Linked DNA regions of Homo sapiens: region 2 is linked to region 1. A link means that fine-mapping ties the variant in region 1 to the expression of a gene that starts in the linked region. Tissue or cell type: whole blood. Region 1 holds a variant in brackets; the other region holds the start of a gene. All regions are shown on one strand. Distances are from middle to middle.

The links. PIP is the estimated chance that this variant, and not a neighbour inherited with it, causes the effect.
Region 2: FBN1 starts here. The variant in region 1 is fine-mapped to the expression of FBN1 in whole blood (TOPMed, PIP above 0.99).

What each region holds. Positions count from the first base shown.
Region 1 is chr15:48,589,637-48,600,272 of GRCh38, reverse strand. FBN1 (fibrillin 1) reads left to right here. Exons shown (of 66, transcript NM_000138.5): 5 at 39-134; 6 at 3,895-3,990. Among named protein-coding and RNA genes, the nearest start is that of FBN1, 51 kb to the left of the region's middle. RefSeq lists an enhancer at 4,025-4,194. The variant T/A (reference allele first, on the strand shown) is at 3,482.
Region 2 is chr15:48,639,308-48,648,891 of GRCh38, reverse strand. FBN1 (fibrillin 1) reads left to right here and starts at 3,183. Exons shown (of 66, transcript NM_000138.5): 1 at 3,183-3,317; 2 at 3,942-4,286. The coding sequence starts at 4,123. FBN1-DT (FBN1 divergent transcript) reads right to left here and starts at 3,087. Exons shown (of 2, transcript NR_183872.1): 1 at 2,062-3,087. RefSeq lists enhancers at 3,019-3,108, 2,621-3,145 and silencers at 3,219-3,298, 3,339-3,518, 3,929-4,058, 4,159-4,208.

The sequences.
Region 1 (10,636 bases):
TAAGTTGCAAAAGTGAATTCTTCTTCTTTTTTTTCAAGTACAACACTGCAATATTCGCTGTATGAATGGAGGTAGCTGCAGTGACGATCACTGTCTATGCCAGAAAGGATACATAGGGACTCACTGTGGACAACGTAAGTACACTGTAGTTATAAGTATTCTAGATGTTAACCTGTTTGTAGACAAGTAGAATAAAGAGATAAGTGCTGATGGATTTTCTTCGATTACCTGGGACACAGCATGTTTACAAGTGTCCAGTGACCTTTACAGATGAACAAATCACTTACTCAAAAAACTTAACACCAAATTTCCAATTGGAACCTTGATTGGTTACAGGTTGTTTGATTCATTTTCCTCTCATTTACCTTCACCACCTTGCTTGCCTGATCTCCTTGATTTCTAGTCACCACCAAAGGAGCAGAATTCTTGTTCATTCCAGACACATACCTTCCACCCACTTGCTGAACTTCAACACTTGGATTTTCAGGAAGCATCTCAAATAAAGTATTTCAAAACTCAGCCTCATCATTCTCTCTAAACATGTCCTTTATCTTGATTGGTGGTATCTGCATCCCTCTCATTTCCTAATCTAGATTCTGCTACCGAAGTACTTATCACATGGTGTTCAGTTTGAAGGTTCATTTGCACACACCATTTATTGTATCTACTTTCTACCAGTCCCTGTGCTTTGCAGAAGACGAACATTCTTTTTAAAAACCTTGTTTTTTTTTTTTGTTACTTTAAGATGAGCATATATACCCTACAGAAAATTTGGAAAAGTTTAAAAATACAAAAAGTAAAATTATTCGTGATTTCATCATTCCAGATAGTATCTTCTAGACTTGTAATGCATATTTGGTACATGAGTTCTTACTGTATATATAGTTTTTGTACCACTTTTTCACTTAATACTTTATTCAAAGTATGCTCATTACACATTTTAAAATACATTTTAATGGTTGCCTAGTACTCTATTACCTGGATGTTTGACTGTTTATTTAATGAATCCTCAATGGTGGGCGTTATTCAGGGCGTTTCTAATTTTTGCTTTTGTGTATATATTTATTAGGATTAATAATGTTATTATAAATAAACAAAAATGTAGAGAATGCCCTAGTGACCATCTGTGTTAGTCTGTTTTCATGCTGCTGATAAAGACATACCCAAGACTGGCCAATTTATAAAAGAAAGAGGTTTATTGGACTTACAGTTCCACATGGCTGGGGAGGCTTCATAATCATGGTGGAAGGCAGGGAGCAACAAGTCACGTCTTACATGGATGGCAGCAGGCAGAAAGAGCTTGTGCAGGAAAACTCCCCCTTATGATAACCATCAGATCTTGTGAGACTTACTGTTATGGGAACAGCATGGGAAAGAGACCTGCCCCCATGATTCAATTACTTCCCACCTCCCACAACATATGAGAATTCAAGATGAGATTTGGGTGGTGACACAGCCAAACTGTATCACCATCCACACACTGCAGTGGGAGAAGAATATTGGTTGAGTTTTGTGTAGCCCAGCCTGGAGAGAGGAGAGGCAGCCTCCGCAGTGTGGGTGATCCTTGGGCTGAGTCTTGAGGGATGGGTAGGAGCTTACCTGTCAGGTGATGGGGAATGGACCTTTTTGGGCAGATGGTAGAGCATGACCAAAGCACCAGCACAAGACACAGCAAGGGATGTGGGACATAGCAAGTGCTTTGGTGTTGCTAGAGCTTAAATGCAGAGGAGAGTGAGGGGAAAGGAAGTAAGGTCAGATAGGATGTCATGGGCCAGGTTTTGATGCCTTTATACATACTATGTTTTCTTCCAAAGTAGGGCTAGGAAAGAAGAGTGAGACCACAACAATAAACAACACTAACAACATCAATAACCTACATCTTTTCAGTTACTCTGTGCTTACTGTGTGCTAGGCACATTTTAGAACTCTATGTGTGTTAACTCATTTAATATGACAACAACTCTTTGTATTAGAGGACATAAATGTTACCCTCTGGCAGATGAGGGAACTGGAACACAGGGACCTCAGTAGTTCCTCTAAGGGTATATAGATGGTAATCGGCAGAGTTGGGGTTGGAACCCAAGCAGTCTGACTCCATAGCCCATGTGTTTACTCTTGTGAAATACCAACCTTATTACCCTTCACTTACGAAGGTTTACAGTGAGAAAGATCACAGTGTGGAAGCGCAACTGGAGGAGGACAAAACAGGAGCAGGAAGACAAGTCCTAACTAAGGCTATGGCTGTGGAGATGGCGAGATGGGGCTGGATCCCAAGGCATTCCAGGAGAATCAGGAGGGGCTGCTGGGCATCTCTTCTGCTCCCCTTGGTGCTCCCTGAGGGAGTTTAGCCCAATGCCCAACACACAAGTGCTTAATTAACACTGGCAGAATTAGAAAACTTTTCCTAAACTTCAGCTTCCTCATCTGTAATCTGGGAGGGTTGGCTTAGGCAAGCTCAAAATTTCTTTTCTGTTTAGAAGCTCTTCATTCTCCCTGACTATAAATCAAGAGGCAAAGAAGACAATTAATTTACATAAACCTCTCTGGTTATATGATGAGTAATGGCCTCCTGCCATAATTTTTGGTTAAAAAGGGTTGTGTCAGTTCAGGTCCTCTTATGCCAAGAAAATATCAAGACAGAATTAGACATAAAAGAGAATTTATTGGGGAAAAGACCCGTGAAGAATAAAGGAAAGAGGAAGCAGAAGTAGGAGGGAATGGTCTTCAGACCATGATGCCTGTCTGATCCTGTGCAAGGAGGGAGGGAAGGAAGGACAATTGCATAGAAGGAACTTCAGCCTGTAGTGCAGCTCCAAAAAGCCATAGCCAGGTTGATGGAGAACCCAGGGCAAAAAGTGCCCATCAAAGAGTTCCATGATGGGTGGAAATAGCCAGGCTTTAGTATCCTAATGCTGTGTTTAGTCATTGGCTGTGAGCCTGCCCTTGACATGAACATTGCAGCAGATCTGAAGGTACAGCAGCTGGAAGTGGTCTGCCAGCTAAACTTGCAGGAGATTCTCTTGAGGGAAAGTATGAGTGGCTCAACTTCATGGCTGCTATAGGGTAATGTATGGAAAAATGTATAGAAAATATATAAGGAGCAAGGAATTTGAATGGAGGTTTTGGGGGAGCCTCATGGAGCAGTAAGATTTCAGCTGGGCTTTGAAGAGTGGGTGGAACTGACATATTTGGCAGAGAAGAGCCTGCCACGCATGACGAAGATGCCTAGAAAGAGCCCATGCATGCACGAGTTACAGGAACTTGTACAAAGAGGAGTTGTTCAGCACATGAACTTTCAATTCTTATTTTAATGTCATTTCTAACAAGCAAAATATCCTGCCCTGAAGCATCTCTAGATTTACTGCACCAATAGTTTCCGTAAGTTCTGTTATAACTCTCAATTGGATTTTCATTATGGTACTTAAATTACTGAAGATCATTAGTAGTATTTTGTTGTTTGCAGTTAATTGTGCAATTGAAC[T/A]TGCTACATTTCTGTAATGGTGACATCAGAGGGGCTGATATTTCCCCTCATGGGAGCCCTGTTGCAATTAAACGTAAATCATAAGCAAAAGAGTCTTTGCTAACACACAGTTCCCATTCAGTGACATCTCTTAGAAACCACTGTTTTCGAGGTTAAACTGAAAGCATTGCTCAGATGCTTCACGGAATGAGACCATCAGCATTAACATAGATACAAACTCATCTATTCCAGGCAGCTTTACCTAAGAGTGGACTGAGGAATATCTGAGTATGTGTAACTGTAGAGTGACCGTCCAAAACAAACACCAGGGTGACTTTAGACATTTTATTGTTGTCCTTCCAGAGGACCACAAGTGTTACTTCATTAGCATTTATTTTCAGGTAAAGCGTCTCAGCTCTCTCCTTATTTTACAGCTGTTTGTGAAAGTGGCTGTCTCAATGGAGGAAGGTGTGTGGCCCCAAATCGATGTGCATGCACTTACGGATTTACTGGACCCCAGTGTGAAAGAGGTAATGGTTTTTAAAATCATTTACGTAAAGACATGCTGGTACCTAAAGCTGTTACTAATTTGCACAGACATTGGGTCTGCATGGCTACTTCCTGAATGTTGCTGAGCTTTGAGGGGATTTCTCATTTGTCATTGGGAAGGTCCCTAGGATGACAAGACAGCGGCCCTGAATCTATGCATGATATTCGGCAATGTTTGTCAGTCCAAGTTTACCTAAATTCAGTTATTTGCTAATTTGGTGGTACTCAGTTATGAGTGTATACATAATTACCAGTTGGCATCAGGATAAAAAGGGGAGAACTTTCTTCTGTAAGGGTAAGGATTAAGCTCTTTATTATGCCAGTGAATTAAGTGGTCTTGAACAAAACATATGTATGGAAAGGGAGAATTTCAGTATGAAAAGCACACCTAAAGATCTGTTGGACCTGTTGGGGGCTGTAGAGGTGTACAAGCTCAGCATTCAACACTCACCATAGATATATTGAGTGTCTGCTGAGAAGCTACTTTGTGTAGATGGTTTATTCAGTACTCATCGCAGCCTGCTAGAGTGTGTAGAATTATCCTTAATTTTGCATATGAGAAGATGAAGGCACAAAGAGGTCCAGGGATGTCCCCAAGGCCACATACATAAGAAACCTTTAATTTGAATGTGTGTTTTGTCTCTTCAAGTCTAATGTTTACTGCTGCTCTTAATTAAAAGAAACATTCTACCTGATTTGCCTACCTAAAAATACAAGTATGATATTGAGATATGTGTGGATATGCAATATTCTTAAGTTTTTTTCCCTGAACTTTGGTCTTACTAATAATCTTGTCTCTACATTTATAGATTTTTTTCTCATCATCCCTAGTTTTATAATGAAAGTTTAGAAGTTTTATGTTACACAAAACTGTAATTGAAAATTTGCATGAACTTTTAAACTGCAGTAATCACTTTTAGCCAAAGTTGTATAGACATCTTATTCTAAGATGGAAAGTAAAGATTCAGTAGCAGATGTTGAATATGTCATTTAAAACATGTAATAGAGGAAAACAAAGAGCAGAGAGTGGTTTGTGAGAAATTATTTTCTGTCTGTGTTTATAATTTATCTAAATTCAGTTATTTGCTAATAATGCAGTAATACCTATTTGAGCAAGAAATTCCAGGTCGATTACTTTGATTACTAGGTAAATTACATTGTATCTCTATTAATGGGACCACTGCATGGTATTGATGTGTAATGCATAATAGACCTTTACATTGCATGTTGATATCCTTTAGGAGTCCCTCCTTAAACTGCTTCTCTTTACAACTTGCACAGATGTGTTTTTATTCGCTAATAATTATAATGGTCCAGAGTACTAAAAACTATTTCTTCTAGGCAATATCATTCTGTGGCCTTATTACTTAATCAGGGAAGTTGTAGGAGATTAAAATTGTTAATGTGTAGCTTGAGGAGTGGTGTGTGAAAATAATTTCTCAGATGATAATGCTGGGCATAATTTGTTTTAGAAAAATCACTAATAAGATGAAGTTACAGGGCATTTTACCTGTAACATTTTACCTGTAACCATTTTAACAAAGTGGTTAAAGATTTGCTGCAAAGACTATTGATGCTCATAGTTGATATTGATGATAACACAGTCTAAAATAAAGGGCATGATATTGAACCATTCCACAGTGATTTCTTCAAAGATTTGATCTTTGTCCAAGATTAAGAAATGTCCTGAATGGGTTAAATTACTAAGCTACTAATCAAAACTGGCATGTTACTCAGAGGTTTCTCCAAGTTTGGGGGTGTCTTCAACTGCTCCCCTTCAGGAAAAAGGGCTATCCTGAAATCTGCACTAAGGTGTAAATATCTGTTGACTCCATAGAATTTTCCCAGTGGTGATTTTCAAAATCAAATTCATCCCCAAGTGGCAGATTTTCAGGCATTTGTGGTAGTGGAGACTGGAGAGCAGAAGGCAGGCTTGCCCGTTAGTAGCAGAAGGGTAGTGCCATCTACCCACTGCCTGTTTTACCCACGGGTACAGTCCCAGACCTTCAATGGGAGAAGAAAAACATGGGTGTCATTTCCCACACCACATGGGAGAGAGGAGTCTTTTTGATTCCAGAATTCTATTTCCATTTGTAGAGTCTTCACTGTTTGCTGCTCTTATGAAAGTCACCTGCTTACCTCTTTGAAGAATTAGAGGCAGTAGATTCTCTTACTTAGATGTATGTTCGTGATTTCAAGAGTGATGAATAAAAATCTGATACCGAGTCAGGACAGATCCATCCTGAAGTGTGGGGAAGTATTCAGGGTGACTTCCGATGGTGGGTTGGTATACTTATTGTGGTGCTTATTACTGGATAAGTACCTAGGTTGGTTGTATTCTGTTTTAACTGGGATGTGATGTTTATTTTTTAAAGTGCAGATCCGGGAGGCCTTTACTACTTTCCTTTCTCCCTTCATCTACATTTTCCCTTAGTACTCTCTCCACATCTCTTTTTATAGCATTTACTGCATTGCATCAAAACAGCAAGTTTCCAATCTCCCTCACTAGAGCATAAGTTTTCAGGAGCAACTATAGTTTCTTCATCTTCTTAATTCTAGCCTTACTGTGTGATGCACAGTACACGACCCATAGATGATGAACTGGATTCATTTAATAGCATCAAAAAATCTGGAGATATAATGATCGGATATGAACAAGTATCTCCTGGAAATAATTGCTGTTTGCCAACAGTCCTGGATATTGATTTCATTGGTTTCATGCTAAACAGAGCTGATTACAATGTTGATATCTAATTGAATTTGGTCCCATCTTTCAGAAGAATGATCTTTCAGGTCCACAAGACTGTCATTTTTCAGTTAACAGGGATGCAAAAAGGAGGAATGTTTTGATCAAAACTAAGTGGCAATAAAAACAAAAGCAAAAACCTCTTATCATGATATAATACACATGTAAGGGAACATTTAGAATGTCAGTTACAAGTACTTCTCAGGATAAAGATCTATGTCCCTGGGAGACCTTGGAACTTTTATACATTAATAACTACCTCAGAGACCCACTATGAGTGTGAAATACGCCTTTGGGGGTCATACTGGCAGGATTTGTATCACATTAAGCCAATAAGTCAATCTTAATCATCCATGAACATAGTATTTTGGTTTTGTGATGGAGAGAAGCAGCAGATCTCATGCTTGAATTATGAATCATAATAGTCATATAACAGTGTAATAAGATTATAAAGCAATTAGTCTTACTTGCAGCTTTTTGTCATTAAGATAAGTTTGTTTAAAAACATTCTTGGCTGGCCAGCCTCATCCCCAGTGGGCAGGTAGCAATGATATATTTTACCATTGCCACTACCATTGTTTCTCTACACCCAGAGGATAAAAAATAGAGACCTGTGGCTTATTTGGCCTGTGATGTCTACTTTTTAAAAGCTGAATAGGAATACCTTTAAATACATCTTCTAGTTTGTCATAGTCCCCACCACTACCTATTGTCACATCTTGCTCAAGTTCATTCATTTAGCTTAGGTATTAGCCCTTGTGAGCATTCAAGTTTGCCACCTCCTGCTGCTTTCTCTGTCAAAGATTGTGTCTTTATTTTTTTTAACCACAAGTTTCTTTAATTTTTCTTCCTGTCACTTTTTTTTGGTAAGTTCACATTTGTGGTTTTCTTGTTGCCTCCTACTCCGACCCTTTGCCTTCTCTTTGCTTGGGCCTTGAGCAACTAGTAGAACTTAATCACTTCTTAGCTCAGTGGTACAGTATGTTAGCATTTGTTATCAGATTATTGAAGTGAGGTCAGTGCCTGTTTTGGCAATGACAATACAAGCTAGTCGTATATTGCCATAGTTACTGCTAACAAAAAAACTGTGTGGAATCCCTTTCTCTTGCCATCTTGCCTCAGAATGCACATTTAAAATCTTGTTAAATGCCTTTGTATTAAACACAGTGAATCATATGAGTGGATGAGACTTTTCAGGGTCATGTCAAAAGAGAAAAGAATGATGGAGATAGACCTGAACTTGGAGATGGGGGTGGGGTGTGATGATGAATAGGCTTAGGGAAGAAGAGAAACAAAGAGATACAGCAAGAGAACCAGGAGAGCATTGAACCAAACAAACAAAAAGGAGTTCAAGAAATAACTTGGCAATTGTTAGACTCATCGAAGGTCTGAGAATGAGAATCATAAAGCGGCCATTGGACGTAAGAACAGCTGACATGTACTGAGTACTTGCAGTGTGCCAGGGGGTGTGCTAAGCACTTCACTTTGATGATTTGCAACAACCTTATGAGAAAAGTCCTGTAATAAGTCCCATCTTATGGAGGAATAAGCAGAGGCAAAGAGAGATCAAGTGCCTTGTCCAAGAAGGGACAGCTTATAAGTGGTAAAATAGAGGCCTGAACCTAGACATTCTGGCTCCTAAGCCTGTGCACATAGCCACTGTGTAGTACTTGGACTTCACTGGAAAGGGGCCACTCGTAACTCTAAAGACCTCACTGGAAAGGGGCCACTCATAACTCTAAAGACCTCACTGGAAAGGGGCCACTCGTAACTCTGAAGACCTCACTGGAAAGGGGCCACTCATAACTCTAAAGACTTTTCTGAGGAACGGTAAGAAGAAACCTAGAACTATGAATCTTAGAATGGAAGTCAAGATGAAAAGGCAAAAGAAAGGATTCTTGCATATTCTTGGATGTTTCAAATGTAGGGTTTTGGAATATTCCTCTATTTGATTGATTTCAACGTACGAATCTGCTCTTGGAAAGAGAGAGATTCCTGTGTGTTTACAGGACATATAAATGTGCTCCAAAGGACTGAACTAACATGCCTGGAAGTAGACATATGGAATGAATATTGTCATTTAGTGCAGTTATCATGGAAAGTTATATCATTTTCTTGTAATATTACAACAGCTCAAAATGTGTTTGGAACTCTTTTTTGGAGGTGCCTTTACAGAATCAGCAATACATTCAAATCAGTGTGTGATTTTTTTTTTTCCCTTTTGAGGAGGCATTTGAGTTTTCAGAAACAGCCTACAGTAATTTACTGTTAATTCTAGTGACTACAGTGGGTAATCACACATTTTAGCTGTTTGGGATCAAAAGCAGACTTAGATTTAAAAAATACTAAAAATAATTTTCTCATGTGGTTCATAAAGCACATGGAATTGGTTTAATGTTTTAATGTCAAACTTTATGTGAGCCAGAGGATGAAGCCTTTTGGAAGCATAAATGCAAATAGCAAGAAGTTTTCTCTCATTTCTCCATCTGAAGCTGCTCATCATGTATCCTCAGAATATTAGCATGCACGTGGACTCTTCTAAATCCTGGTGCATTTGTTCTGTGTTAAATTCCTACCCAAGTCTAAACTGTGAAGACAATACTTGGATTTCTGCCAACTTAAGAAAGTCTGTTGGCTGTTATGCTGGCTATCAGTAGATAAAGTATAGGGGAAAGCATTGTTGAACTGATAGCCTTAAGGAAAAGGAACAATTGGGGCCAAAGTGGAGTAGAATAAAAATGAGAGGATTGAAATAATCCTTAGTTCATTAGAGAAGCAGAACAGTTGAAAGTGAACTAGCTCTTCATGCAGGTACTTGCTTCCTAGGAAATTACAGTCTTAATGAAGCTGAAAAGGTTTTTGTATTTGTTAGCACAACAATGAAACAGAATAGAACAAACAACAGCTAGGTTGATTGTAATTCCACCTCCTTCTTATATGTGCAGTTGACGTTTGAGAAACTTGTCCTCACACCTTGTTTCTCTGATGATGTAAAAATGATTTTGCACAGATATCTTTCTAATGATTTTATTGAATGACTTTCAAAAATACTACATTAAGCAGTTGATAAACACATATTATATAAATCCAAAAAGGCAGCATCTATACTGTGTCTAGTGAATGGAAAGGACTAACATGTAATTATCCAAATATATAATAATCAGATAGTCCATTTTGGAAACACCTGCTTCGAAAAAGAAAGTAAAAACTTTACCTTATCTCAAGACCTGTTTAGAGAGCTTCATGGAATCAGGAGCTGATTTTCCTGTGCTTTTTTTCTCCTGGTGTTTTTCAGGAAGGTATTAATAAAATACAGATTCATTATTATTTTTTCTCTATGTAGAAGTAAGTTTTACAGAGCTGCATTTCTGACACGAATTTTACATAATTTTAAATTGTAGGTGGCTATCACTAAAGTTCCCAAGGTAATGCCACAGGCTAACTCCCATTCTCCATGTGCCTTTGGAAGGCAGAGCTCTGTGAACTATGTATATTTTCTTCTTTCCAAAAGCAAAAGGCAGTAAACTGTCATTACTAAACTACACTGAAGGCCTCTATGAACCTCTCTTTTGGTATTTAGTTTCAATGGAAAGTAACAATGTGGCAGGGCGTGGTGGCTCACGCCTGTAATCCCAGCACTTTGGGAGGCCGGGGCAGGCGAATCACGAGGTCAGGAGATCGAGACCATCCTGGCTCTACTGTGAAACCCTGTCTCTACTACAAATAGAAAAACAAAATTAGCCGGGCGTGGTGGTGGGCACCTATAGTCCCAGTTACTCGGGAGGCTGAAGCGGGAGAATGGCGTGAACCCAGGAGGTGGAGCTTGCAGTGAGCCGAGATCACGCCACTGCACTCCAGCCTGGGCGACAGAGCGAGACGCC
Region 2 (9,584 bases), 49 kb before region 1:
CTTTGAAATAAGGAGATGGAAGCAAGGAATTCTAGCCCATGGACTTAATTTGCAAACAGTGCAAAACAACCTATTACGAAAAAAAAAAAAAAAGTCTGTGATAGGTTTAAGGAGAGTTGGGTCCTCAATCATCTGGCATCAAGAAAATCTTATTGCAAAGACACAGATTTTTATTATTCGTTACTGAATTTTGTCATAAGTAGCATGCTACTCTAATACATGTTGATTGCCTAGATAGCGGGAATAGTTCTTGTATATTTAAAATGTATTTACTTTTAAGTAATCAAGTTCCCCCTGCTTCCCCTTCCCCTGTAATCTTCCACCATTGTGGTCAGAACATGAGACTTATTGCTCAAAGAGGGGAGTATATGGCTTGGAGCTGCCACCCAATATGAAGGAAGAATCTTTCCTTTATTGGAGAAAGAGGCCAATGAATAAAGAGGAGGTTGCCGGGGAAAGCAAAGGCCAGGTAAAAACGTTTAATCCAAATCCCTCCCTTGGAGGTGAAACCCTGGAAGGCAGTTTGAGTTAGAAATAATAGAAATGTCCAGAAATGTTGGAAGAGGGGACTTGCAGGGCACCAGGATTTGGCCTTTACTTCCTGGGCAGAAGCCTTAGAAAAGGCTTGTGTTTGGTTGCTGCTGACCAACATGTCACTGAGTGTAAGATTCTGAGAGAAAGGGCACAGCATGTCTTGCATGCTGCTGGAGTACAAGGAAAGCATGCAGTTTCCAGAGTCCCCTGTGGGTGCAGAGCAGCCCAGAAAACTGGTGGGCAGGACAAGGCCTTTCTGGATGTCCAACAGCCCTGCTTTCTCCTAATCCATGGTCCCTCTGCTCAGATCCTTTTCCCAGTGTGAATTACCTCCTTACCCCTCCCTACCCAGGGAGCTTTAAAAAATATCCATGTGAAGAATCCACTACAGACTACTCAAATCAGAAACTCTGGGTGTTGGGGCCTGGTGTCAGTGTCAGATTTTTTTTTTTTTTTTTTTTTTTTGAGGCAGAGTTTCACTCTGTTCTGCCCAGGCTGTAGTGCAGTGGCACAATCTCCTCTCACTGCAATCTCTACCTCTCAGGTTCAAGCGATTCTAGTGCCTCAGCCTCCTGAGTAGCAAGATTTACAGGCATGCACCACCACACCTGGCTAATTTTTGTATTTTTAGTAGAGACAGGGTTTCACAATGTTGGTCGGGCTGCTATTGAACTACTGGTCTAAAGTGATCCACCCGCCTTGGTCTCCCAAAGTGCTGGGATTACAGGCCCAGGCATGAGCCACCATGCCCATCCTGGTGTCAGAATTTTTTTAAAGCCTCTTATTATTTTACTGCATAGCCAGGGTTGAGAACTGCTATCCTAAGTAGAGTCTAGTTATGTTTTAGACTTAAGTTAAATATCACTTCCTCAGGGATCCCTTTCCTGATCAGCCCTAGCCTAGGTCAAGTCCCCTTGTTATATATCCTCCAAGCAAGCACCCAGTACTTATCCTGTTTGGCGCTTAACAATTGGTCCATTATTTGTTTCAAGTCTGCCTTTCCTTGTTGACTACCTGCTGTGTGAGGGGAGACACATTTCTGCCCTTTTCACTAAATTGTTGAAGTCAGTCGTGTTCAAATTGTTGAACCTGCCTTGTTAAAATTGTTGAAGTCTAGTTCAACAATGCACTAAGTAGTACACAGTTCGTGCTCAGTAAAAACATCTTGAATGAATGATCTCCTTTACTCAGCCAGGAGTGTGTGACCAAGGCTCTCATTCATGAATCTGCTAAGAGACCTTTTGCAGGTGAGACCTTAAAGTACACCACATACATACTTACAGGACTATGGCTTTAGATCAGCTCATAGTTCCCACAGTTTTTCTGTTTCATCTTCATGTATCACAGCAGTTCAGCATGTCCATCATCACCATTACAACCCTGTGTGGTGGACACTACAAGTCCCATCTTGTATTTGGAAAGAAGTTGAATAACTTGCCCAGGTCTCTCTACCCTACTGTCTGGGCCCCTTTACAAACGGTTACAAATAAGGAAAATCCCTTTCAACAAGATACATTCCCAGGGTACCTGTTTGTGCTGAGCTTTTATTATTGGCTTGACAGCAGGCTGGTGGCTGCTTGCAGGGGATCTTCTGGGGGTCTCCAGTTACAGCAGCCAGGACCCAGTGTGCGACTTCAGGCCTTCCTAAACTGTTACAGGGTGCAGGCATCATTGGGCATTATCCATATAAGGATGCCACAAATACTATACCTTTCAAAGCCACTAAATTCACTGTGCCGCGCATATCCTGGGGAGAGGCAGCTGTGTGTGGGGGAGGGCGAGGGGACCGGGAGGGTGTAAGTAGAGTCCTCCAGATGAACCCCAGTCTTAATCTGGGCTGGGCAAGAGGACCATCCCTTCACCGCTCCCATCCTACATCCTAGGTTCCAACATTTACAGGCCCCTGGGTTGGACACCGACTTAGAGAGAGCACCCTGGATTCAGGCCTGGGTGGCTTGAATTGAGCCTCAGAAGAGCCGCGTCTGGAGTGGGCTCTCGACACCCAGGGCAAGTGGGGGCGGCAGAGCCCTCTCCTCGGTCGGCACAGCAGCCTCTGCCGCGGTCCCGGCCTGCGACGCGCCCAGTCTTAGCCTCCCGGCCTCCGGCGTCTGCTGAGTGTCCGGCGGGAGAGGCGCAGGGAGCGCGCTACCGGGAGGCGCGGGCAGCGGGGACTGGTTTTCTCTCGGGCCAGGGCCTCCGGGGCAACCGTCTCCAGCGCGCATTCTTGGTGCAGGTGGAACAGCTTTCTGCTCCGGTAGGGCTTCACCTATCGCGGGAGAGGTTAATCTCGGATCTAAACCTCGCAGCCGCAGAGCGGGCTAAAACCGCTACTCCACCTCTTCCCATTTCTCCCCTCCCCACCTCAAGACAAAAAGTCCCAGGCCGGGCAGGACCTGATCACCTCTGCCTCCTCCCACTGCGCTAATCCTGCGAGCGAGAGGCCCCGCACCGAGGCGGAGGCTGGCAAAGGGGAGTGGAAAGGGAGGATGGATGGGGCCGGGGGGTGGGGTGGTGATGAGGGCGACGAAGGAGGGGGTGTCATTTTCTTTTTCTTTCTTTTTTTAAAAAAAGTATTTCTCTCGCGAGAAACCGCTGCGCGGACGATACTTGAAGAGGTGGGGAAAGGAGGGGGCTGCGGGAGCCGCGGCAGAGACTGTGGGTGCCACAAGCGGACAGGAGCCACAGCTGGGACAGCTGCGAGCGGAGCCGAGCAGTGGCTGTAGCGGCCACGACTGGGAGCAGCCGCCGCCGCCTCCTCGGGAGTCGGAGCCGCCGCTTCTCCAGTGGGTGCAGCCGGGGTCCCGACGGGGGTCGGGCGGCCACCGGGGCTGGAGCTGCGGCCACGGAGGCTTTTGCGTTTGCGCCGCGCCGAGGGCAGGGACAGGGACTGGGGTGAGGGGCTGTCCCGGAACGTCCACAGCTGGCGCTGGCCCTCCCCTGCCTGACAGCTTCCTGGCCCGGGGCTCTTGGTGCCGGGCTCCGCGTCAGATGTTCGGGGGGCGGTGGCATCGCCCGGAGTCGGCGGGGACGGCGCGGCTGGCTTCCAGCCTGGCGGAGAGGGCAGGCTGAGGAGTGGGGCGTTCAGAGCGCGCATCGCGCGCAATTCGTGCCGCTAAAAAAAATAAACCCAGAGAGCTCGCCCGGGGCTTAGGACCGCTGGGGATATGGGTACTTTGCGCCGCGCTCTTCTGGCGGGGCCCGGGAGGCCGAGGGATCGGCCGGGGCTGCTGCCGCCGGGGGCCTGGGCTTTCCAGCCAGCTGTGGACCAAACGGTCTTCCCTTACCCAAATTAACTGCGCCACGCGCAGGCGGCGCACGGGTTGGGCTTGGGAATGGGGACCGCGAGGCTTCAGCATCCCGATGCCCTGAAAGTCTCCCCGCCTCGGGGATTTGTCTCTGTGTTGCAGCTGGCAGGGGCCGCCTGAAGTGGGAGCAGCGCCTGGAGAAGGCGGGAGGAGCCCGGCCCGGGGGACGGGCGGCGGGATAGCGGGACCCCGGCGGCGCGGTGCGCTTCAGGGCGCAGCGGCGGCCGCAGACCGAGCCCCGGGCGCGGCAAGAGGCGGCGGGAGCCGGTGGCGGCTCGGCATCATGCGTCGAGGGCGTCTGCTGGAGATCGCCCTGGGATTTACCGTGCTTTTAGCGTCCTACACGAGCCATGGGGCGGACGCCAATTTGGAGGCTGGGAACGTGAAGGAAACCAGAGCCAGTCGGGCCAAGAGAAGAGGCGGTGGAGGACACGACGCGCTTAAAGGGTAAAGGAACCGGTTCCCTCCTTTGGTGTGGGTCTCCCAAGTTTCAAGATCCAGAACAACGGGCAGGATGACTCTCCCTGTGGAAGACTCCTTGGCAAGACCTCCTGGGGGCACCTTAGAGGTGCTAGGGTTGTTTAGTCCCCACCCCGTTCGTGGTTAAACTACCTTGCCCCTACTCCCAGAGATTTCTGCCCCAAAGGAGAGGACGTGGTTAAATGGAATCTTGGGCCATTGTTGAGGCAGATTTTGGGAGGCGAGAAGAGTTCCTTGGGGAAGAAGGGGAGGAGTTGCGAGTGGGATAAGAGGAGAAGCCCGTTCCTTTCCCTGCAATATCAATTCTGGTTGTTTCTAGAGGAAAGTACTTTCCTTGGGGTCATCTTGGTAGATGCTGTATTTGAAAGGGGGCAAGGAAAGGAAGGGATTCCCATGACAGTCAGAGGAGAAATCACACAGTAGTTGACTCTTCCGTAAATTATGCTTATTAAAATTACGGATTGGGTTTTCTGGGCAATGCTTCCTTTAGATGTCTACATTGGAAGCAGAACAGGGCAAGTGGTTCTGAGAACTGGTTTTTTGAGTTGTGTGGGGCTCTCCGTTTCACTGCAGCAGTAAGGCTGCTGTGGCCGGCCTTAAGGGAGTATTTTTAACTAGTGGTGTTTGTGTTGTGTACATGCAACTGACCATTTCACTGGCTTCCCATGCCGCTGTTACAGATGTTTCAGCCGGAAAAATTTTAATTAGACTTGACTAAGGGTTGTCATTTTCCTGTATTGAAGGACAGTGGGAATACATTTCCTTTAAGAGAAATTTGTCTGCAGTTGTTTAAGTTAAAGCCTCCATGGAAACAACAGGATGGACTGTCAGTGACCCCTTTTATCTTCTTGGAGGAGCCTGTTAAATAAATTCAGACAGTATATATAGGGAGATTTTGTATTAAATTCTTACCATTCTCGCTGATGCTCTTTTCCTGAGTGGTTCTGTAGCTTTATTATATAGCTCTGGGTCACCAAGTGATGGTATCCACTTGGATATGTGGCTGTTCATTTCACTTACTCTTTTTTTGTTATGAGGTGTTATAGTCATGTATATGTAGTAAAATTTGTGTTTGTATGGCCCAGATATGAGAAGAAAAAGTAAACTCACCAGACCAGTTTTTGACTCCTAGTCTGGAGTAAGGACAAGATGATTGTATGAGCCAAGCACTTAGGCTGTGATAAAATAGCACAGAAAATAGTTATGATTAATTCGGTTCCATCTTGGCCTTCGTGGAAAATAAACCCAGAATTCCGATAATGTTGGAAGGAAGTTTGCTTATCATGGTAAACCTGACCTTGATCAGACAGCAGATGTTTATTGCCCTGTGTGCAAGGCACATGGCAAGTTCAATAAGTAGACTGAGGCTCTGATTTTCATATGTTCTCAAGAGGACCTCATTTAGTCCAGTATTTTTCCTTCAAAAATACATTTCTCCTACATAATAATATCTTAATATCTATTCTGATAGGATTGCTCCTGTATATAAAGGACGTGGGGATTTAATTCTGTGGCTGAAGATCTGCAGAGAGGTGTGAGGCCTGGTCAGACATTTGTCTCATTTCTCTGGGCTGTCACCAACTAGTGTGTTCCCTTGGGAATGTGAAAAAAGAAACTAAGCTTTACTTTGTTGCTTAACAGGATGCCACACTTTTACTCACACTTGTGCTTTTTCTCTCTGGTTTTAAATTTGTTTGTGATTATAGAGAGATACCTCTCTGTGCTCCTCACAGTATTTGATCATTAACACAGACCTTATCCTATTGTAAACTATTTATAAAGCCTTCCTAAAAACAGGGTATTAATAGAATTGTAATTATGTGTGTTCCTAATTCTCATGTTAATTATAAGATTTTATAATAAGTGATATATATATATACACACACACACACACACACACATACACGGGGGTGAAAATAATAATTTAAAAATATATACAATTAAAAGTATTTCCCTGCCACCTTTCAGAGACCATTTTCTTGTGTATTTTTCTATAAATCTTTTAGGCATATGTATACATGTACAAATAAACACAAATATATATGTATACATACACATGTGTGTGTGTATCCTTTTTAATACATGGAATGTATTGTACATGCAATATTCTGAACTTTACTTACTTTTTATGTATCTTTAATGCATCCATCTATTAACTCATATGGATCTACCTCATTCATTTTCTTTCTTTTTTTTTGAGACACAGTCTTGCTCTGTTGCCCAGGCTGGAGTGTAGTGGTGCAATCTTGGCTTACTGCCTCCACCTTCCCGGCTCAAGCGATTCTCCTGCCTCAGCCTCCAGAGTAGCTGGGATTACAGGTGGGTGCCACCAAGCCCGGCTAATTTTTTGTATTTTTAGTAGAGATGGGGTTTCGCCATGTTGGCCAGGATGGTCTCAAACTCTTGGCCTCAAGCGATCCACCCACCTCTGCCTCTCCAAATTACAGGCTTGAGCCACTGCGCCCTACCCCATTTTCTTGTTGTATAGAACCTCATTATGTCACTGGAACAGTTCCCTAGTGATGGCTCTTTAGATTACATTGAGTCTTTTGCTATTACCAACTTTCTTCTGCATACCTGTGTTTACATACACGTGTTTATATGTGGTATAAATTAGTAAAAATAGAATTGCTGGATCAAAGTCTTTCCCATAGATTTTAAGCAAACCCCAATTCTTATGTTAAATTTGAATAACATTTTAAATTTATTCCCTCTGCTTATTGCCGTTACAGTCTCATATGAATAAATCCTTTAACGGTGCCCTGCTGTATAAATCATCAGAAAAAGCAGTTATGTACTACATTTTTCCAGTTATTGCTTAAAATTTCTGTTTTTGTCTGTTAAAATATTACCGGCTTCAAAACTCACCTCTTTGACTACAGTGAAACCTGTTTACCATTCTGATTGGAGATGCACAGTTTATGAAGTGAAAGTGATTTGTAACCCCCGAGTCTGCCTGATGCCCAGTTGGTGGCAGCAACTTTCAGCACCTCACTAATCTTTCCTCTAGTTAAAAGGTACCTTAAACTCATCAGTATCTGCTGTGCACTGGTTCCTTCTCCCCAGCAAATACTGCCTTCTTGTTTTTCTCTGATGTGGCAGGTGACTACAAAATCCGCCTTGGTATTCTTCAAATGCATATATATTCCTTTCTTGTCAGCTCCCTCTCTTCCTAGATTAGAAAACTGCCTCATTTTCTGCTCACTGGATGTGCAGTCCCAGCTTGTCTTCCTCTCCTCCCCCCCTGTTGCAGGTGTTCTTTTTTTTTTTTATTCTCTCCCCACTGGGCAGCAAAAGTTGTTCCACAGTGGAAATTTAGGCATCCTCAAGTTTCTTCCCAGCTTCTGCTGTGTTTTCTTAGAGTAAATTGCCAATTTCTGTTTTTACAGGAAATCCTTTTTTAAAAATGGAATCAGTGTGGTCCCCATCTACTCTGCAAAAATTGCATTTTTCTCTATTTTCAAATGAGATTTGTTCAAGTTTCAAAACCACGTGAAATAATAAATGTATAGTAGTTTTCTTTTCCTTGGGCATTGCTTGATATGTGAAATGGGTTTATGAAAAATAATAAAATCATAACGCTATTTGTTTGACTTTCAATTCATGGGAATTTTTCTCAGCTAAACTCTAAATGGTGATTAGGCAAAAAGTGTGGGAGACAGTCCAAAAAAAAAAAACTCAACTGTACTTGAATAGCAATAGTTATGCACCATTTATTTATGATTGCCTTATTGCTTTAGCTCCCAAGTAAGGAAATATTACTGTTTCCTGTCAAAGGGGGAAAAGTTCTTCACAGTGAGATCTCCTTTCCCAAACCTTGGAGAAGATGGATTGAGACTTCTGCCCTTGTTGTGTGGTTTATAGGTACATGAGACCAGTTGTATTTGACACAATTTGTCCCCTTGTGTGTGATTCCTTTTGGTCTTTGTTTATTTGTTTATTTTTTTCCAGAGGTCTTGTTGCCAGAAAAATACACATGGAACAGTTCATACCCATGGTAGATTATGTGATGGCAAACTCCAAGGGATTAGTTATGTAGAAGTCTGTTATTAAAATAAAGAACTGTAATAGGGAATACAGAAAAAGTTCTGTAGACTTTATAAAGTCCATTTTACTTTATAAAGGGGACTTTAAGACTTCACCTGAAGTCAGATGGGCTAATAATTAAATATGGGGAAAGACTCCTGCAGGGGTATGGTTTACATTTATTGAAAAGATTAAGCTAAAATATTGGGACACAATTTTTTTTTAAAAAAGGATATAGTGTTCTTAAATAGAAGATTTCAGCAATTCCACACATGAAACAAGAAGGTAGAGACAAAATATTTATTTATGTGACTCATTTTGTAACATTGAAGACATAGAGGTTGTTTATAAAAATGTGTAAGTTGGTAATACAAATTAATTAAAACATACATCAGCCTATGGTGAAATGAGATGAGAGCTGATGGAAATGGAGTACAGACTTCCCTTCAACCTTATTTGGAATTTTAAAGAATATTAAAATGTTCCTTTATCGTCTTGTGTAGCATATACTTTAAAAATTATAGTATTATACTGATGACTCTAATCAAGCAAAATACTAAAAAATTATTAGAGTATTCATGTACCAGTTTGTTGGCTTTTTCTTCCAGTAAGCCAATCAGCCTAACCACTTTGGGAGTTTTAGCTTTATTTTCAATGTGAAAATAAGATTTTACAAATGTTTTCTTGAAAGAGAAATACATTCTTTTAACAATTTCTTTGTTTTTAAACATGAACCCAGCAAATGGGCCTGCTTAAGCAACTTAGAATTTTTTCCCATGAGATTCTTTGAAGAAACCGACATCAATAATATATCAGGCCTGAGTTATGTGGCCTAACTCAGGCACATGATAGTTTAGCGTTTCATGATTGTTCAAGTCGATTTTCTCATTAGATAGTTAAATCATTGAAGACAAGAATCCTATTATAAGCATTTTACCACTAACTCATCATTAAGTGGGGTTTCAGAAAGTTCATTAATTCAGGAAGTCTTGATTGAATGCTAGCTTGAGTTTAGTTCTGTGGAAGGCCAGAGACATATACCCCATAACCCTGGGGGTACTTCAGGAACCGTGAGTGCACAGAAGGACAGCGTCCCTGGAAAGGGGGTCTGGTATTAAGTCTAAACAAATACATAATAACAATTGCAGCCATGGTAGGTAACATTTAGGTAACATCTATATGTTACTAAGCACTATATGTTGCTAAGCACTGTTCTTACTGTTTTGCATATGATAATTC